4 linked regions of the Homo sapiens genome follow. The protein of the gene in region 1 purifies or fractionates together with the protein of each later gene. This does not show direct contact. Each region holds a gene or a part of one and is shown in the gene's direction. Other genes may lie near its edges.

The links.
Region 2: the proteins of WWC1 (region 1) and PRKCI purify together in Homo sapiens (affinity purification with mass spectrometry; 3 studies listed by BioGRID and IntAct, with this or other methods). This does not show direct contact.
Region 3: the proteins of WWC1 (region 1) and AMOT purify together in Homo sapiens (affinity purification with mass spectrometry; 3 studies listed by BioGRID and IntAct, with this or other methods). This does not show direct contact.
Region 4: the proteins of WWC1 (region 1) and PALS1 purify together in Homo sapiens (affinity purification with mass spectrometry; 2 studies listed by BioGRID and IntAct, with this or other methods). This does not show direct contact.

The regions. Positions count from the first base shown.
Region 1 is NC_000005.10:168,298,145-168,301,644, forward strand, and holds part of WWC1 (protein KIBRA), read left to right. Parts: intron 1-3,500. UniProt on the Homo sapiens protein: Regulator of the Hippo signaling pathway, also known as the Salvador-Warts-Hippo (SWH) pathway.
Region 2 is NC_000003.12:170,302,424-170,306,477, forward strand, and holds the end of PRKCI (protein kinase C iota type), read left to right. Parts: intron 1-616; coding exon 617-704; 3' UTR 705-3,554; downstream 3,555-4,054.
Region 3 is NC_000023.11:112,816,832-112,820,331, reverse strand, and holds part of AMOT (angiomotin), read left to right. Parts: intron 1-893; exon of another isoform or gene 894-1,007; intron 1,008-3,500.
Region 4 is NC_000014.9:67,314,435-67,317,934, forward strand, and holds part of PALS1 (protein PALS1), read left to right. Parts: intron 1-2,397; coding exon 2,398-2,469; intron 2,470-2,973; coding exon 2,974-3,045; intron 3,046-3,500. UniProt on the Homo sapiens protein: Plays a role in tight junction biogenesis and in the establishment of cell polarity in epithelial cells.

The DNA.
Region 1 (3,500 bases):
TCTCGTGCCTCAGCCTCCCGAGTAGCTGGGATTACAGGTGCATGCCACCTCACCCAGCTAATTTTTGTATTTTTAGTAGAGACAGGGATTCACCATGTTGGCCAGGCTGGTCTCGAACTCCTGACCTCAAGTTATCCGCCTGCCTCAGCCTCCCAAAGTGTTAGGATTACAGGTGTGAGCCACTGTGCCCCACCCAACAAGGTTTCTTAAGTGAGAGTTATAACCAGTCTGCCAGGGAAGTTACCCAGAACCTCTTTATTCTCCATGCTGCTGCTCTTAATGATCCACTAATACCTGTAGATGTATAATAATAATACTTACATACAAGTGATTAGAGGGCTTTTTATCTTTTTCTGAGGCTTGAGTTTAAGATCTACGTATTCCATGGGAGTCTACCATGCCTGGGAACATCCTATGTCAATTATTAAGAAAGAAATGAGGTTTAAAAACACTAGGATAGATAATAGGGAGAAGCAAGAGATTTGGTAACCCAGAGAAGAATAAAATAATAGTCAATACCAGCATCTATTGAGTGTTTACTCTCTGCTGCCCACTGAGCTAAGCATTCTATTTTGTGACCTCATTTTATCTTTTCAACAGCCATATGGGGTAAGTACTTCAGATGAGGGAACTGAAATTTAGAAAGGTTAAGTAACCGGCCGGGCGCAGTGGCTCACTCCTGTAATTTCAGCACTTTGGGAGGTCGAGGTGGGTGGATCACCTGAGGTCAGGAGTTCAAGACCAGCCTGGCCAACATGGTGAAACCACGTCTCTACTAAAAATGCAAAATATTAGCCAGGTGTGGTGGCACGCACCTGTAATCCCAGCTACTCAGGAGGCTGAGACAGGAGAATCGCTTGAACCCAGGAGGCGGAGGTTGCAGTGAGCTGAGATCGCGCCTCTGCACTCTAGCCTGGGCAACAAGGGCGAAACGCCATCTCAAAAAAAAAGGTTTAGTAACTTGCTCAAGATCACCAACAGGTGTTGCATCCAGGACTGGAGCCCACCTAGCTGGATTCTTGCATCTACACTCATACTAGCTGTAGCCTGGTCTGGCTCTGTCCTGGCTTATTAATCCATCTCAGGGCCCCAGAGTGCCCTGTTGACAGCTGGGCTTGAGAGTTACCATTTATTCTTAAAATGGGTGAACCTGATGTGGATCTCAGGGAGAGACTTTGCTAAGGAGCCTTAACCAGAGAAGCCAGTGAGATCCTCATGGCAGCTTAGGAGACTGTTTGGCATAAACTCCACCTTCTGGGAGCAGCTGGCTAACCAGAGCTTTGGGGATGGGAGAAGAGAGAGAGATGGAGGCAGAGGGACTCTTTGAAGGATGCAGTGTGTACAAGGAGTTCACAGTCCTTTCCAAGTCGCTTGGGTAAATGCTCCCAACAGCCAGGGAATGAGTAGCCAAGGCCGTTCCTCTCTGTCGCCATCCCTCCCCCTCCCGGGGAGAGGGCTTATCCAAACTGACCCAATTTTCCAATTCCCTGGGGTCCCAGATTGCTGTGAGAAGAACACTGCCCTTTTGAAGGGAAGAGAATCAGGTTGCCTTAGTTACCTGGAAGGTTGGCACGCCAAGTTCAGGTGCACGTAAGGAGAAACAGGGCTAGAATAAGTGTGAGTCGAAGGTGGCCACCGTCTTGCTGCACGGTTCCCTCAGTGGCAGAAGCCTTGATCAGGCTTCAGTGGCACTTGCAGGGAATGCCGACCTAATGTCAGGTGGCTGTCCATGACGTGTATCAGGAGCTCTCTCCAGCCACATGTGGTGCTAGGTGATGAGGCTCTGCAGCCTCCAGTTCAGCAAGGGGCCCTGGATAAGAGGAATCCACTTCACTTGGAGAAGTGGCCTGGTGACATCCCTATCACCAGCTCCTCGCTATTTGCTAAGGGAAGCACCTCCACTTGGACAGGGCTGAGGGCTAGATCTGGGCAAAAAACTCCCGTCTTGCCTCTCCCAGCATGGAGATGGCCAGCTGGCTGCACACCTTTAGGTAGAACAGCAAAGGTTCAGTTGCTGCTGCCTCGAATCCGTTTCAGAGTGAGATAAAGAAAGAGAAAACTAAGAAACTGGATACAGTGACATTTTGTTATTAGACCTTCCCCAGCAGGCCATTTAGCCTTTAGTTCCTGAGCAGAAAAATAATAATGGGGTGGCGGGAGGAGGGGGCAGGCGTTCACTGTTGTGTGCGGAGAATATTCTCTAAAGATGCAGGATGGGGAAGAGGGGGTGGAGCAGAGAGTGGGGAGGAGGGAAAGAAAAAGGACAAGTGTGGTGGGTCACATGCCCATTCTCCCCACCCCCCACCCCTTGCCAGTTGCCTGCTCAATGCTTCTACCCATGACATCTCACTGTTGGGAAGAAATGAGATCTTTCAGTTTCAAATGTCTGCCAAAGAAAAGGGACGGAGGCTTAAGTTCTCACTCAATGGTCAGCCAGAAAAAAAAAAAAAAATGAAGCTGCATCAAGATTAGGGACACCTTTGTTGGCTTTTTTTTTCTTCTCTTGCTCCATTCATCACTCTCTGGCAGCGAGGACACCAGGCCAACTGCAGCTGCTGACTTTCCCCAGTCGGCTGCCTGCTGTTGCCCAGGCCTGTTTTGGTAGCAACCCCCACACTGGCTTCCTCCCCGCCCAGTGGTGGTTACTTGTTGGATTCGTCCCTGGGGTAGCCCCTGGGATCCACTGACGGGTAACAGACTTGGAAGGATAAAATGTCAAGATGCAGGCATCAGGTGGCTGCTAGGATGAGATGACCCTGGGACAGCCTTCCAGTCCTACATCTGTCGTGGCTTTTCTTGGAGAGTCGGGCTGTGAGCATTTCACTGTATTCCAGGAATTTCTTCTAAGTGCATTGTTTGTCTTTGTATCACTAACAGTGAGAACAATAACTGGCACCTGGTGATAATGGTGATAAATAATCATGATTGTCTTTAAAGATCCTTATCCATTGTCTGTCACGTGCCAAACACTATTGCTCATCATATTTTTATGGCATTTTGCAAATGAGGAAACTGAGGCCGAGAGACAAGTCAAGTGACAAGCTCATTTTTCCACTATGGAAAAAAATGTGTATGTGTTTGTTGTTCCACCCAAACATGGGATTGCATACCACACGATTCACGATTCCCTGTAGTAGATAAGCTCTCCATAAAGATCATTAGAGGACACTGAGTCAAGTCTGGCTTTGTCACTTTAAAATAGTAAGTGGGACTGGGTGCAGTGGCTGACACCTGTAATTCCAGCACTTTGGGAGGCCAAGGTGGGTGGATCACCTGAGGTCAGAAGTTCAAGACCACCCTGGTCAACATGGTGAAACACCATCTCTACTAAATATACAAAAAAATTAGCCAGGCGTGGTAGCAGGCGCCTGTAATCCCAGCTACTCGGGAGGCTGAGGCAGGAGAGTCGCTTGAACCTGGGAGACGGAGGTTGCAGTGAGTCGAGATTGTGCTATTGCACTCCAGCCTGGGCAACAAGAGCAAAACTTCGTCTCAAAAAA
Region 2 (4,054 bases), on another chromosome or scaffold:
AGGGACTGTATCCTCTGTAACTTTGTGCTTCTTAGTATGGCATAATACATTTATGTATTAAATATTTGATAGCACTACTCACTGTATATTAAAGTAGAAGCCCAGTGTAACAAAATGCCAACCTCTCCCCTCTCTGTGACCCATGATCTCCCTGCGGTGTTCTCTCCTCATTCCAGGTCTCTCAGTGTACTTGTTCCTATTGCCTTTTCCTTTTGGCTAACTTCTTCTGGGCTACACTATCTAACATCTGGCTGTTGAGGTGACTACTAAATTGAATGCTAATTCAAACCTGGATGTTCACCTGTAACTAGGAATGTTGTTCTGGTCAAAAGTTAAGATTAACTGGAATGGTGACAACTGGTGTCTTTTTTATTCGCAGTCCTCAGTTTTGAACTCCTTTTTGGCTCTAAACTTGCTTGTGGGATTATCGGGGTTTTTTAAATTTTCAGTACTCCATTCTTGATTCGTCTAGAAAATCTGGGGGATTAATCTAAAAATTTATAGATTTCCTTTCAGTACAATTAGCCTAATTACTTGATTTTTAATCTTATTTTACCATTTAAAGGTTGAAGAAATCTTGATTATGATGAAAATAAATTTATTTTTCTTTCAACAGTGACATTGTGAGGAAGATTGATCAGTCTGAATTTGAAGGTTTTGAGTATATCAATCCTCTTTTGATGTCTGCAGAAGAATGTGTCTGATCCTCATTTTTCAACCATGTATTCTACTCATGTTGCCATTTAATGCATGGATAAACTTGCTGCAAGCCTGGATACAATTAACCATTTTATATTTGCCACCTACAAAAAAACACCCAATATCTTCTCTTGTAGACTATATGAATCAATTATTACATCTGTTTTACTATGAAAAAAAAATTAATACTACTAGCTTCCAGACAATCATGTCAAAATTTAGTTGAACTGGTTTTTCAGTTTTTAAAAGGCCTACAGATGAGTAATGAAGTTATCTTTTTTGTTTAAAAAAAAAAAAAACACTGCATTAAAAAAGTATCTGTTGCATTAAGGCACATAGTGGGATTACATCATAAACCTCCCATAATTTTTGTCATTCTGTGTTAAATCATTTCAGGGTTTAATTTTGAAATAAAAGATTAATATAAAATGCAACAACTTTTTATATTACCTATTAGTTTTGGAGTTCTTTATGTTTAAAAATTCAGGTGTAAATTTTATTGCCTTGGATAAATAAATTATTGATCTTTTTTAAGGCAGCAGTTATTAAATTGGTAATAGAAGATGCTGCTTGCTTAGAATTGGGAAATTCGGCTGGGTGCAGTGACTCAATGCCTGTGATCCCAGTACTTTGGGAGGTTGAGGCGGGCAGATCACTTGAGGTCAGGAGTTTGAGATTGGCCTGGTCAACATGGTGAAATCCTGTCTCTACTAAAAATACAAAAATTAGCTGGGCATGGTGGCACATACCTGTAATCCCAGCTACTCGGGAGGCTGAAACAGGAGAATCGCTTGAACCCAGGAGATGGAGTTGGCAGTGAGCCAAGATTAGCCTGGGCAACAGTGAGTGAGACTCGGTCTCAAACAAAAACCAAATTGGGAAATTCTTCTTGAGTTAAAAAAGACACTTTTTATTATGAATCAGATTCCAAATCATTAACTATTTTTGCAAAACTGGCACAAGTGGTTTTTCTTTTTAAGTATATTAACAGGGTAGCTCCTGAGCCTTTCCCTTTATTGGAAACTTTAACTGCAGTGTTAATATATACACTGCAAAAGACCAAGGATGCAGTTGAATGGAAAATTACTCAGTGTATAGAAAGGAAAAAAACCAGAAATTTAAAATAGATACAGAAAAGTACACTGGTAATATTTTTATTTCCTATTGGAGAGTGAATCCCCACAGTTGCTTTTTGTGACTTGATTCAAATGAGGCACTCATTATTGTTACCAAACTTGTAAAAGCATTCCATGTATTCAGTGGAGGCAGAATGTATAATATTTTTTCCTTATAATTTAGCATACAGGAAAAGTATTTATTTTTTAAGTAGGGTATCTTAATTATGCTCATTTCTTCCCCTAAACCACATTATCTATATGATTGGACCCTTTAGTGAAATCAGAAAAATAAAGTAGGCATGAATAAATGTTCAGGACACACACATACACTCACACACATCACAGTATCAGCTCTTTCAGTGAGTTTTTATTAACTAGATAACACATGTAATACATAGTAGAATACATTTCAGAGGCAGAGTTCCTCGGATTATTTTTTATGGATATTAGTGTTCAGCAGCTTATTATTTAAAGGGGTGCCAAATATAGCATCCTTCTGTTGTTTATTTTAAATATATTTTTAATGAAAAGGGACTTAAAAAGTAAACATGATTATCTAAATTACTTAAAATTTTTTAATCTTAGTAAAAATTTTAGGAAAGTTATCTAGTTTAAATTTCAAATGTTTTAAAATTTGTAGGCATTTAATAAATTATCTTTTTTTGGAGGGGTGGATGCTGCATTTCATTGGAAATGTCATTTTTCCAAAGTTTCTAGCTATATACTCTCTTTCCTTCAAATAACATAAGTCTGAAAGCAATGAAAACGTCAAAGGAAAATGTTTATATACATCCACATGTTTATTTAATATGTTTCTCTTAACACCTGAAACTTGTTTTAAAACAAAAAGCAGTATTCACTTCAAATCATAAACTTAGAATTCTGTATCTCATGTCAGAAATATGTTTATGGCCTTGCTTTTAAGTGGTGCTGTTTCCCATAGGGCATTAGTTCTCAGATTTTGGAATGTGAAATAATCACCTAGGAAGTTGGTTTAAAATGCACACTAGTGAGCCCACCTTAGACTTCTTTTGGGGCCTTCGACCTCACTTTGAGAAATACCTTCTTCAGGTTATTCTTTATGTTTGTCCTGTGGTTAAATATTAGAGTATTCATGATAAAACATTTTGAGAAGGGGTAAGCAGTGAGTTATTACCCACAATTTAAAGCAAATTTTGAATGAATCTTTAAGTTAGGTATCTACCTTCCCACCAGCCCCCCAAAAAACCTCTCAGTAGTTTCTTTCAGTGTACAAAATGATGAGCATTTTTCTATGATGAGGTTTTAACCATTATTCAGGGTGGTCTTTTGTTTTTAAATCTTTTTTTAACTAATAAGATTTACGGTGTGTATTTTATACAGAAATGCATTATAAATGTTTTTAATTGTGTTCTGTTTTTTGCAGTCTTTAAGTGCCATGCCAATTGTTCTTATATTCTATAGAAGTTCGCTCAAAATACTCAACAGGGGAATAGGCAGCGGACAGTCAGAATGGTTGGAATTTTGGCTTTCTAAGAAAAACTTTATTTTGCATAAGCATGTGGTCAGATCATTTTGTGCATATGCAGCCTGGATTGGATGTTAAGTAAATGCTTGTTCAGTGCCGGTACATTTACTTAAATCTGTTTTTATTTTTGTCATGTAGAATACTACTGTGGTCATCATAATGTAATCTATTTCTGTACCTTTTTTTTTTTTTTTTACTTTGAAGTCTTTAAATAAAATGTATAATACCCATTGAGAGTGGATCATTTTTCATATGTAGTATGTCAGAAATTTGTATAAGAACAAAGATGCATCAAAATTTGTTCAAGAAAAAGTGAAAATTTCAGAGTTTGGAATTTTGCTGTACTTAAAGCACCATTCTGGTAGAACTGATGCTGTCGTATTTACATTTAATAATGTTACATTTAGCTGGACATAGTGGCTCACACAGCACTTTGGGAGACTGAGGTGGGAGGATCACTTGACCCTAGGAGTTTGAGTTCAGCCTGGGCAATATAGTGAGACCCCATCTCTACATACAGAAAAATAAGAAATTAGCCAGGCATGCCGGCAAAGTGCCTATAGTCCCAGGAGGCTGAGGTGGGAAGACTGCTTGAGCCCAGGAGGTTGTGGCTGCAGTGAACTATGATCATGCCACTGCACTCCAGCTTGGGCAACAAAGTGAGACCCTGTCTCTCAAAAAATATTTAATGTTATATTTATTAATGTAGATATTATTAAAAATTAGGAAT
Region 3 (3,500 bases), on another chromosome or scaffold:
CACCTAAGTTATCTGTGGATTTCTCTTTCTTTCTGTCCTCAAAAGCAACAGAGCCCATGATGATCTACCCTTGTTGAGCAGCATTTTAATACACAGTTTTGCTGTAACAGGTTTTTCTCTATGGGAAAGGAGCAGAGTGCTTGATAATGCTTGATGAATAAGCAAACCTAAAATGGCCCTAGTGGGAGGATGCTCCATATGAAATTTGGGTCTGCATCAGGCAAATACTGGCCGTAAAATTGTTGCAGGGCCCTACATGAGGGAGTGGCACCTATTGACAAATTACTGGCAAAAGGAGGTAGTTGAACTGCTTTCCAGAAGTGTACTGCTTTAAGGTGGTGACACATTTTCCCTCCTTTATTTCCTTTAACCAACTAGCTATACAGTTTGTGAGTACCTTTCCAAGTAACTGCTGCTAGCAGCAACCAATTAGAAGACTACATTCTGAGCCCTTAATCCACAAATTACAAGTCAGGATGCAAAGCAAACTCTTTGAACAAATTGCTGTTAAGAAAACATTTGCTTGCTTTTCGAGGTGCAGTGAACTGCTGGAGATTTGCTGTTAAAATGAACAAAATTATAAACAATCCTTTTATTACTTCATCTTTCTTATGCCCTCCTCCCCTTAAAAAATAAATACCTTGAATGCCCAGAACCCCAGATGAGAAACAAGGCAAAGGCTATCTGAATAATTTTAAAATTTCAGAATCTTTGTCTTTCTAAGTGCTGAACCTTTTCTGCATCCTGGGTTTATACATTTATCAACTGCTTTTAAAAATTAAATCATTTCTGTTTATAAAGCAGCCACCTCCTTTCAATTGTTGAAATCATGCCCAGATCTGAGGTTTCTTGAAATCCTTGTTTAGTGGAATCTAAGGGTGACCTAACTCTGTAGTTCAGAGCAGAGCTGGTTGTGCAAGAGAAACCATCAGGAATTTGCAGCCTGCTCCAGGATTCACAGATTCACCGATTCACCATTGCAGAGCCTGGGAAAGGCAGTTTCTGTGGTGAGGATCAATCAAGTTCCAGGCTATTGGGTGGCACCTGCTCTGGTGAGAGTGTGTGTGCAGGATTGCACATGTGTGTGCCAGGAGTGTGGAGTGTGTGTGTGCATGCACATGTGTGCATGTGTGTGTGGCTGGGGAGGGTGAGGGCTCCCAGTCATCGAGGTGGCAGGGTGGAAGGTGCTGTGTCAGCTGGGTAGAGTGGCTTTTACTTTCCCTTTGAGTCCTTACTACTGTCTCTGGGAGGAGTGTACCCCCCACCCTACCCCACTTCCCAGCTTTGGGGAGGATCCTGATTTTAGTCACTGGCCTTTGTCCTGCATGTATGCTATGTCCCCTTTTCTGCAGAGCCCCAGTGGCCCAGGTAGCCTTAGGAAGGAGCAGGATGAGGGGACGGAAGTGGCAGGAGGCAGGTCAGGGCTTGCATGGAATCATGTGATTCTGTTGTCTGCAGGCGGCTTGTTGTTCCTGGTTAACGTGTCAGTGGGGAGCGATTCAGGCTGCTGTGTGCTGGAAGGACCTGGAGAGTGTGCTGCTCACATGGCTGCCACCTTTATTATTACTGTCATTACTTTTACTGTTATTATTTAACTTGGGGTGTATTTTGGCTTCCTCTGACATCCGCCCCCTCCAACTCTCCCTTACCCCGTCATTCCTTAATCTCTTTTTCTCACGGGGAGCTTCACCCCAGTGTTCATTCCGTCCTGCTTTCCCCTGGTGGGTGGATGCTGGAGCCCAGATTGAGTTCTTCACTGAAGGGCTTTCTCTCCCTTTGTGACTGCCCAAGCCATTGCTGGTTTGCAAACCAGCCAGTGACGGGCTGCCTTGGTTTTCCCAACATCACGGTGCACTGAGATCTGCTTCCTTTTCCAGCCTGGGGAATTGAGGGGCAGCTGCCTTGTCTCTGCTTATCTTCATCCTCAGCTTATCTGACCCCAGAGACCTCCTTCTGGAGACCTCATGGTCTCCTCCTTCCCAAGGTCCCTGGAAGGCCATGTGCTGTTGTCCAGGGAATGCAGGGGCCTTTCAGTCTCCAGGCAGGAGGGAGGCCAGTGGCTGAGTTTGTTTGAGAGAGAGGCCTGGGTTGCTTGATGAGGCCCAGGGGAGCTGTGGAGAGAAAGCCCATTTCAGAACTGGGCGTTCAGTCTTTAAAAGAGAATACCTCCCAGGCCTTGGACTGCAAATCCTGGGAACAAAAATGAAGGTTAATATAGTGATTTTTTTCCCTTAAAATTTGAGAGCTGCATTGGAGAACATGAAACTTAAGCCCCTCTTTTCTGCCCACAAAGCAGAAAAGAGACACACAAGCCCCAACAAATCTCAGGACATTATATTTTAACTCTGTAGGCATGTAGAAATTGTAATAGCTCTCATTCAAAGAGAAAAAAGAGCACTTAGTCTTTTACCTGTGAGGAAACTGAAGATCCATAGAATGGAAAATAGGAGCTCTTCACCAAATAAATGTATAAATAACTCCCAGGCTTTTGATTGAATGAGTGCTTTGAGCTCTGGGGAAAAATATTATGTATGGCAGCAACTTTCCAGTTGTACTTATGAGTACCATGTCAATTCTTCTTTGCCCAAATAGTTCGCATGCCCTCTTCAATATTCAGCAATTATTTATAATGACAGATGTATGTGATTGGAAGAATGTGGGTACACCAGAGGCATAGATGGGCCTGAGCGACAGAATCCAGGGTTTGTACAGGTTTGAGGACTCTTGGGGAAGATGTAGGTTATTGGGTATCCATGAGAAAGTGTTTGGAATGATTTTGTAGCTGTAAAAAGCCCTTATAGTTAAGATCTCTTGTAAAGATGGATACATGAACAGTAATGGTAACTGGAGTGTGTGTCTGAGGAATGTGCTTTAGCATCTGGAATGCCAGTTAAAAGTTAATTGCTCCTGGTGATTTGTCCCAGTTCCACCATGAATTTTATGCAATTTATTGCAAAGATTAAATGGATATCCTTTAAGTAACAAGCTAACAAGGTCAGCTTATCTCACTGGGAGGTAGAGAAGTGACTGTAATTCCTATTCCGCCAAAAATGAGAAGACCCCAGTATTTTTGCAATTTATTTGTGACCTCAAGAATAAAATGGGCTCATGCAGATTAAGTAACTTGCACCAAGTTACACAGCTCGTGAGCAGTAGAAGAGGTCTCCAGACTCCCTCTGTTGGGATCCAGATCCCATGCACTTAGCCATCTGTCTTCCCTGGATTGAGAAATATCAACTGTAGAACAAGTGTCCACAGGACATGGGAGCATATGAGGTTAATTGGGCATGAGCTAGGGCATGAACAAGCTTTTTGTCTTCAGTGCACACTGACAGATACTATTCCTGGTAGTGGTGATGGTGGAAGTGATCCATCCACATACTAATTGTTTCCCTTAATGGCTAATAGTCATTAGGTATGAATTATTTATACTTAGGTGTTAGCATTTTGTACCTGGTAATTAGGTACAAAAATGGGAGAGCCACATTAAACAATGTACC
Region 4 (3,500 bases), on another chromosome or scaffold:
ATTTTGTCTATATCAGTCATATTTTAAGGAAGGAGGAATGGACTTCTTACATTTATTTTAGAGTATGATGCTAAAACCCGTGATTCTTCAGAGTAACAGTTACAGGACATTTCTCTAGAATCTTGGAGTGTTGGGTAGCCATTGTGGTTCTGCCTCAGGCTTGTGCCAAATATCAGTATGGTGTCTTCCTACCATGCCGAACTTTAGCCCATAAATGTTTAGAACTAGTGTTTGTTGATAGATTGATTTTCTGAAAGTATATAGATTCCAATGATGACATTTCTAAGTCTTTTTATAAGACTAAAGATCTGCCTTAGAGTTTGACGATGGCTTTCCATCAGAATTAGACAGATTTTTTTAAGAGGTCATTATGAGGCTGGCCCTGGTGGCTCACACCTGTAATCCCAGCACTTTGGGAGGCTGAGGTGGGAGGATTGCTTGAGCCCAGGAGTTTGAGACTAGCCTGGGCCACATAGTGGCATAGCTGACATAATGAGACTTTGTCTCTACAAAAAATTTAAAAATTAGCTGGGCATGGTGGTGCGTACCTGTAGTCCCAGCTATTCAGGAGGCTGAGGTGGAAGGATTGCATGAGGCTGGAAGGTTGAGGCTGCAGTGAGCTTTGATCACACCAGTGTAACAGAGCAGTCTCAGAAAAAGAAAGAAAATCATTTCCATCTCTCATTAATTTCTGCCTCTATTTCAGAATAGCCTATAGTTCATACTACAAAAAGTGCCACAGAAGTACATCATTGTAATGTTTTACATTTTTAATATGTAAATGATTAAAATTACTTTGTTCTTGATTTTTAAAAATCGGTTACTTATTTTTAATTTTTTTTTTTTTTTTTTTTTTTTTTGAGACAAAATCTCGCTCTGTCTCCCAGGCTGGAGTGCAGTGGCATGATCTCAGCTCACTGCAAGCTCCGCCTCCCGGGCTCATGCCCTTCTTCTCTCTCAGTCTGCTGAGCAGCTGGGACTACAGGTGCCCACCACCACGCCCAGCTGATGTTTTGTATTTTTAGTAGAGATGGGGTTTCACCGTGTTAGCCAGGATGGTCTTGATCTCCTGACCTCGTGATCTGCCCACCTTGGCCTCTCAAAGTGTTGGGATTACAGGCATAAGCCACTGCACCCGACCCCTTTAAATTTTAATACTCTTAAAATTTTCCTTCTAGTAATAGTTACTTGTACTAAGAATACAGTCTTGGCCGTGCACAGTGGCTCATGCCCCTAATCCTGGCACTTTGGGAGGCCAAGCAGGAGGATCACCTGAGATTAGGAGTTTAAGACCAGCCTGGCCAACATGGTGAAACCGAGCCTCTACTAAAAATACAACCATTAGCTGGGCATGGTGGCGGGCCCCTGTAATCCCAGCTGCTCGGGAGGCTGAGGCATGCGAATCCCTTGAACCTGGAAGGCGGAGGTTGCGGTGAGCCAAGATTGCGCCACTGCACTCCAGCCTGGGTGACAGAGCGAGACTTCGTCTCAAAAGATAACCAGGCTTCCTTTAATGCTTCTTATGTGTATGGAAGTCAGTATTAATCTTTTTGTTAGTACACTTACGAAATGCACTAAGTTCTACAGATTATCCCCACCTATGTAGAATTTGCTTATTGATTTTTAAGAATCTCTGGCTTTACACTGAAAAAAAGTAGATTTAAAAATAAAATAAAAAAGTGGAACCTCAACGTAATTCAGAATCTTCTAAGTGAAGCCACTTGTATCCTATAGGAAAAGACATATTTGATTTAAAGTAGAAGTCGGAAAAGAAAACCTCTTTCAAGGTCAGGAACCTTGAAAGCCTCCTATATTAAAATATTAATTTTGTAAGGAAAAGCACGTTTTCCATTTATATAATTGGTAACTTAAGGGTGGAAATAAAAAATGGCTAACACATATACATACACAAAAGAAGAGGAATTGAGAATAATGCATGCAAGGGAATATACTGAATGGTTTCTTGGAATTGAATATGGAATTGAATATGTGATGAATGCGCACATGTTGTTTTGGAAAAGTTAATTCCTAGAATTGATATCCTTAATTTGAGATAATTCTAAAGGACCTAGAACCATTGTAAGATCCAGGATAGTACTTTTCCACAAAGTAAATGCTCAATGAAACCTTTTAAAAAGTTGAACTATTAAATTTTTAAATATTTTAGTAGATGATATGTATTCTAATAATACATATGGGATTGATTGAGCAGAGTTAATATTTTAAAAATTTGGAGGCTTACACATCATAGCTGACATTACTCCTGTGTTGGCAAAAGGATTTGGAAGGGAATATAAGTGAAGAGATATGTCTAGTGTTTTCCCTTCTTGATTAAAAAAAAAATTCTTATCCTTTTATCTTAAATATTTTACCCTTCTTTTTCTTTCTGCTATTAAGGGAAAAGCTTTCAGCAGCAAAGGGAAGCCATGAAACAAACCATAGAAGAAGATAAGGAGCCAGAAAAATCAGGTTAGACACTTGTATTTGACATAAGTAAATGGTTTCTTGGGTCTTCATCTGGAGCCATGTGTGAATCTGCATATTAGAACCGTGAAGAAGTACTCAGGGAAAGAGTGATACAAGAGGCAAAACTGATTATCTCAGAACTGTAAAGAAAGGATAAGATTTAAGTATTAAAGATTATCTGTCTATACTGTGTAGTTAATTGAAAATTGTAAATGCTTTCCTGAAAAATAGTCTTTATACAAACAGTGTAATAAGTATTTATAAAAGTAAATTAAAAACAAGCTGGGTGTGGTGGTTTGCACCTGTAATCCCAGCACTTTGGGAGACTGAGGCGGGAGGATCACTTGAGGCCAGGAGTTCAAGACAAGCGTGGCCAACATATGGAGATCTCGTTTCTGCAAAAAAATTTAAAGAATAAATGAATGAATAAATAGAGTTCTTCAATTTGAGTTATGTGGTTTTGTTCACGGGAACACATTTATAGTTATGTTTATGATTGCTCAACAGGAAAACTGTGGTGTGCAAAGAAGAATAAAAAGAAGAGGAAAAAGGTTTTATATAATGCCAATAAAAATGATGGTAAGTTCTACTCTCAGGGATAGGTGGAATTATATCTGAAAGGAGTCTAAACCTAGTCCTGTTTTGCACCTTAATGTTAAATATGTGCTTGAGAAAATCATTTAGTAGAAAGTATTTTCTTTTGGAATCCTGTGAGTAAGGCAGTGTTTTGAATTCTGGGGAAAACTGATACAAAAATTCAAGTACTATTTAGCATATGTAGTATTAAATTGACAGTTTCCTGTAGTTTTTTTCTACTTAAACTCTTTGCAAAAATTATACTTCTAACAAATTCTTACAGAACATACTTGAAGTAAAAACTATGTCCTCTACAATAGCTCATGTCACAGAAGCAACTCATTCCTGAGAACCCACTACCTGCTGGCTAAGTCAGACACACAAGAGAATTTTAGTTTTATTTTGATTGATTGCTAAGATTAAAAAGCTCGAAAGTTGTAGCTTCTCTTAAAATCAAA